2 separate regions of the Homo sapiens genome follow, and region 2 is linked to region 1. The links come from fine-mapping of genetic effects on gene expression. Tissue or cell type: whole blood. Region 1 holds a variant in brackets; the other region holds the start of a gene. All regions are shown on one strand. Distances are from middle to middle.

Region 1 (2,902 bases):
AGAGATGGGGGCCCACAAAGAACCCCAAGGACCCCATCCTCTAGACAGGCCTGGCTGGAAGGGCCATAGAAATGAGAGAAACCACCCTGAGAATGGCCCCTGGGTCTTACCTGACGACCATCTTCACAGGATAGACACCAACCCCCAGGCGCCGGGGCCGCGGCACATTGTATGTGATGCGACCACTGCTGTTGGTGATCTCTGTGTCCAGGTGTACCCAGCGGCCTGAGGATGGCTCTGCCATTACTAGGATGTCCACCTGCGGCAGTGAAGGGGGTCAGGGACTCCCTGAAGGCTGAGGGGCTACAGGCTTGGCAGAGGGGCTGGGCGGGGGAACTCTGGGCTGAGGTCCCTGCCTGACATTCCCTGGCTCCTGCCAGCCTGGCTCCTCATTTGTCCTTGGATACTCTGAGCCCATCCTTTCCTCCTTGCTCACCCTTCCCGGCCCGCCCAAGCAGGTGGGTAGCTCCTGGCCCTGTGCTTCCACCCCAGGCAGCTCGGCCCTCTTGACACCCTCACCCCACACGCTATGTGGCTCCATGAGGCACCTGGTGCAGGTGGAGTGGCTGAGGAGGGGAGGCCCAGCCCCAGGTACCTTCTCTCCAGTCAGAGCCACCATGTCGAGGGGCCCGTACATGAACCGCCCCACCAGGACCTGGGGGCCATCTTCAGCAGCAATCACATCATTGGCCCGGTGATTAGCCGTGACATTCTGGAAGGACAGAAAGAAGCTGGCTCAGCCCTTGCAAGGGAGGCTCAACCTTGCTTTATCATTGCAGTGTTCCTCAGACTGGCTGGAGGCATATCAGCTTGCTGAATCATGTCTCTCTACTAACTTCTGCTAGAGTTTCAGAGATGTGTTCCCAGGGAACGTGTGAGAAAAACAGACCGTGAGTCCCCCAAACGCTGTCTTCAAGGTGCACAGGGCTTCCTGCCATTGTACGTTTTCTGCTTTCGTGTTTTTTGTTTGATTGATTGTTTGTTTGTTTTGTTTTTTGTTTTTTGTTTTTGAGAAGGAGTTTTGCTCTTGTTGCCCAGGCTGGAGTGCAATGGCGCAATCTCGGCTCACCGCAACCTCCCGGGTTCAAGCAATTCTCCTGCCTCAGCCTCCTGCGTAGCTGGGATTACAGGCATGCGCCTCCACACCTGGCTAATGTCATATTTTTAGTAGAGATGGGGTTTCTCCGTGTTGATCAGGCTGGTCTCGAACTCCCGACCTCAGGTGATCTGCCTACCTCGGACTCCCAAAGTGCTGGGATTATAGGCATGAGCCACCGTGCCTGGCCCGTTCTCTGTTTTGACTCTGCTCGGCCCTGAGGGGACAACTGGCCTCACAGCCTGTGCTTATCTTCCAGATCCCCGGGCTGGAAACTGCCTGGTCACTTTTGGTTCTTTCTTCTACATCACAGCTCACATCCAACAGTATTTACTATCTGTCTTTTTTTTTAAGATAAAATTTCAAATGCACAAGCATAGAGAGAGAGAAGAGTGTAACAAAGCCTCGTGTTCCCAGCACCTGCTCCACCACTTAGCAACAAACTCGTGGCCATCCTGGTTTCGTTCTTCCCTTGCCCAATTCCCCAGCCTCGGCCCCAGCCCCACCGGGATTATCCTGGAGCAATCCTGGACGCTGCGTCATTTTATCTGTGACTGTCTCAACCTCCCTATTTTTCTTCATTTATCAATGAACTGGTT[T/C]CAGTTCATTCTGCAGCCTGTGTTGGCCCTGACCAGCCCCCACTCCCAGCCTGGCCTCCAAGACCCCAGTCTCTCCATCTAGTGACCACTCCTTTACCGCACTGGCCACATCTTCATCTCTCGCACAGCCACATCGCCTGGATGCTGCTAACAGCTCCCTAATGGAGCTCCTTCCTCAAAGGCAGTCCCTGCAACAGATCCTCTGTCTCTATAAAGCACAGCTCTACTAACACCCTCCCGGGCTCCCCACTGCCCTCTGCGTAGAGTCCGGAACCTGAGCTTAGCTTTCCAAGGCTTGCCTGAACGACCTCTTCAGTCTGTCTCCTGCTGCTCCCCATCCACACCTTCTGGTCCTTTCTGCCAGGCTCTGCAGCAGCCTCCAGGCCTTTGCTCACACCGCTGTCCCGCCCCCCACACTGGCTCTAGGTGCCATCCCTGGCCCTGGCCCTCTTCCCCCACATTCCAGCCCATTCGCTATGACTAGACTCAGCGCCATCATCGCCAAGAAACACTCCTCGGACTCCTCAAAGACAGGTTCTCAACCTCCTTTCAATTCCCATGCATTTTAATTCAATCCAACAAATATCTGCAGACACCTCATCTGCATGGGGTCCCTGAGATAAACTAGTCGTGGGCCCTGCCCTGGAGACACTCAGCCAAGTAGGGAACGCAGGCCCCCTTACAGGTGCACTGTCAGGGGAGAGGGAGCAGCTGGTTCATGAATATAAGCACCTGAAAAGATCCGGCATCCCGAGTCATTAGAGAAATGCAATCAAAACCACAATGAAATACCCCGTCACACCCACCGGGATGACTAGAATCAAACAGACAGATAATAACAGGGGTTGCTGAAGATGCGGAGAAATCAGAATCCTCATACATTGCAGTGGGAATGTGAAATGGTACAGTCACTGTGGAAAACAGTCTGGCAGTTCCCTATATGATTAACCATAGAGTTAACATTTGATACAGAAATTGCACTTCTAGGCATCTACCCGAGAGAAATGAAAACACAGGAGAAATGAAAAACACAAAAACTTATACATGGACGTTCATAGCAGCATTATTCATAGTAGCCGAAAGGTGAAAACACCAGCCTGGCCAACATGGCGAAACTCCATCTCTACTAAAAATACAAAAAATAAAATAAAATAAAATAATTAGCCGGGCATGGTGGTGAACACCTGTAATCCCAGCTACTTGGGAG
Region 2 (2,902 bases), 21 kb before region 1:
TACTTTATGTTTGTCTGCATATTGCTTTTTTTTAATCTAACATATTTCTGAGATTGACTTAAGTTACACCATCTGGCTACAATTTGCTTATTTTTCAGTGCTGTATAATATTCTATAATTTGAATAAATAACAATTTATATGTCTTAAAAAATGCCACCGATAGCCAGGAACGGTGGCTCACGTCTGTAATCCCAGCAGTTTGGGAGGCTGAGGCGGGTGGATTGCCTAAGGTCAGGAGTTCGAGACCAGCCTGGCCAACATAGTGAAACCCCATCTCTACTAAAAATACAAAAAATTAGCTAGGCGTGGTGGCAGGCACCTGTAATCCCAGCTACTAGGGAGGCTGAGGCAGGAGAATCGCTTGAACCTGGGAGGCGGAGGTTGCAGTGAGCCGAGATCATGCCATTGCACTCCAGCCTGGGCAACAAGAGTGAAATTCCGTCTCAAAAACAAACAAAAAATGCCACCGATATATGAATTTGGGCATTACATTTCCAACATGTGAAATTTGAGGGACACATTCAAACCATAGCAGAGGATCAAGTAAGTTAATAAACTGCAACACCGGTACCTGTGCATACTAAGTGCCATATACACGTTAATCATTATCATCATCCTTTCCTTGGAAATCACTGAGGCCAAAGGAGTGGGTGAGACCACCCAGAAACGGAGAGGGCTGAAGACAGAGTCTCAAGAAGCCATCATCTCAGGCTCTTGTGCGGAGAAGTAACAAAGAAACCAGCCGGGGGAGTGGGCAGCACTGCTCTGAGGTCACCGAAAGGAGAAAGATGAGCTGGAGAGAGCTTTATAATGGCTGCATTTGTTTGGATGCTAAGGAGAAGAGAGGCAGGCATTCCGCTGGAGAGAGGGAGGGATGCGTGGGGCAAGGCGGGGGCGGGGAGCCGGTGTAGACGGGTGGAGGGCAGACCGGTACTCTGGTCTATCCCCGCTTCCGGGACGCGTTTTCTAGGGAGGGCGGAGCGTGGATGGCGAGTATGGGGAACTCAGAGAGGGACAGTGTCTTGTCACAGGAAGGGAGGGTCAGGAGGGAAATTTGAAAGAAAACGTCTCTGGGAACCCAGGGCTCTGCACTGCCAGTCCCTGGCTCCTTCTGACAAAACCACTGAGCAAGAAGGAAAAGCCAGACCCCTTGGCAGGATGAGAGGGGTCTCTGCCCGCTGCCGGGCCTGGGGCCTGGGGCCTGAGCCAGGAGGCCTAGGTCCCAGGACCTCCGCCTCCACCCCATGGGTCAGAGCAGCCTGAACCCTGTGCGCGCTCCAGGGAGGGGACCCGGTGTGCGATGCGCGGGGGCTGGGCTAGCAAGGGCAGTGGCGCGAGCGGGACGCAGGATACAAAGCCCGGAGCCACGAGGCTGGCGGCGGGGCGGGGGCCGGAGCGATGAATGGGCACGGCCGGGCCAATCCAAGCGCAGCATTTGCAGCCGCGAGAGAGGGAGCCAATCGGATCCCCGGGGCGGTGGCGGTGGCGGGGGCGGGGACGGAACCAATCAGCTGTGAGGACGGGGCCGGGGGCGGAGCCGCGCAGAGTTTCAAATCGGCTGCGGTGGGCGAGGAGCAGCTGTGCTGCGGCTGTGCTCGGCCTTAGTGGTGTCGGGTGAGTGCGGGCTGGGCACAAGTTTCGCCCTTGTTGCCCAGGCTGGAGTGCAATGGCGCGATCTGGACTCAAAACAATTTTTTTGTTCGGAGGGGAGGGCATCAGGTTCTGTTCACAGGGGAGGGCATCAGGTTCGGACACGCACGGCCTGTGGGGTCGTCTGGGTACCACAAGAAGTCGGATCGAAATCGGGGCGTCTGGTGGGAAGGCCGGGGTCTGGGCGGGTGCGCGTTTGGTCTGGGCGAGCTGGTGAAGAAGATGGTGATCGTGTCCTGGGCCCAGCGCTGAAGCTCGGCTACGGCGTGTCTTGACCCTGCCTCCCCTCCTCGCCTGAGCCAGAGAGAGGAAGGAGGTTGGGATGAAAAGACAGCTGTTTTGGAAACTTGAAGGGCGGGACATCAGAAATGCTGCTGACCCGAGGCCCCTCTTCCAGGAAGCATCCTCCTTCCTGCACCCACACTTACCAACTCGCCCGCCCCCGCCACCCCGCTGCATCCCGTCTCTTCCCCTGTGTCCAGGGTCTCTGTGGGGCCTGGGAATGGGTATGGGGAATGCCTTGCTGATCTGCCTTTCGCCCTCCTCCCCAGGGTCTAGTGGACAGAGAAGACTCTTGGCCAGGCAGATGGCTTCTCGGTGGCAGAACATGGGGACCTCCGTGCGCCGGAGATCTCTCCAGCACCAGGAGCAGCTGGAGGACAGCAAGGAGCTGCAGCCTGTGGTCAGCCATCAGGAGACCTCTGTAGGGGCCCTGGGGTCCCTGTGCAGACAGTTCCAAAGGAGGCTGCCCCTGAGAGCCGTCAACCTCAACCTCCGCGCAGGGCCCTCCTGGAAACGCCTGGAAACCCCAGAGCCAGGTCAGCAGGGCCTCCAGGCTGCAGCTCGCTCAGCTAAGAGTGCTTTGGGTGCCGTGTCCCAGGTAATACTGACAACACTAATCATCTTTTTTATGGAGTGTTTCCTTGGTGCCAGGCAGTTCCTGCCCTCAAAGAGCCTCAAGAATATAGACTTCATGAAAACAGGGACGTTGGTTAGTTCACTGCTGTTTCCCCACCACCCCAGATAGTTCCTGGCACATATAGGTGCTCAACAAATAGTTGAATGAGTGAATGAAAGCATGTCTTGGAGGAAACAGATGCTCACAATACCAGGTGATAAGAGCTGTACGTGATAGGAAATTGCAAAGCAAGTGACCAATAGTGAGGCTCACCAAATGCAAGCTTAGTCGGTGAAGGCTTCCCAGAGGAGGTGATTCCAGAGTTCACCCAGGGAAGCAAAGGTCAAGGGGTA

What was found. PIP is the estimated chance that this variant, and not a neighbour inherited with it, causes the effect. A credible set is the group of variants that fine-mapping cannot tell apart.
Region 2: it holds the start of PIMREG, and the variant in region 1 is the best candidate, but not a certain one, in a credible set for the expression of PIMREG in whole blood (TOPMed, PIP 0.75).

The regions. Positions count from the first base shown.
Region 1 is chr17:6,464,060-6,466,961 of GRCh38, forward strand. It overlaps PITPNM3 (PITPNM family member 3), which reads right to left. Exons shown (of 20, transcript NM_031220.4): 15 at 596-712; 16 at 111-259. Among named protein-coding and RNA genes, the nearest start is that of PIMREG, 21 kb to the left of the region's middle. RefSeq lists enhancers at 1-187, 188-739. The variant T/C (reference allele first, on the strand shown) is at 1,696.
Region 2 is chr17:6,442,874-6,445,775 of GRCh38, forward strand. It overlaps PIMREG (PICALM interacting mitotic regulator), which reads left to right and starts at 1,582. Exons shown (of 6, transcript NM_019013.3): 1 at 1,582-1,615; 2 at 2,203-2,531. The coding sequence starts at 2,238. All of the region lies in intron 2 of LOC107985017 (a long non-coding RNA gene), which reads right to left. RefSeq lists silencers at 892-1,041, 1,272-1,521, 1,604-1,831 and an enhancer at 962-1,540.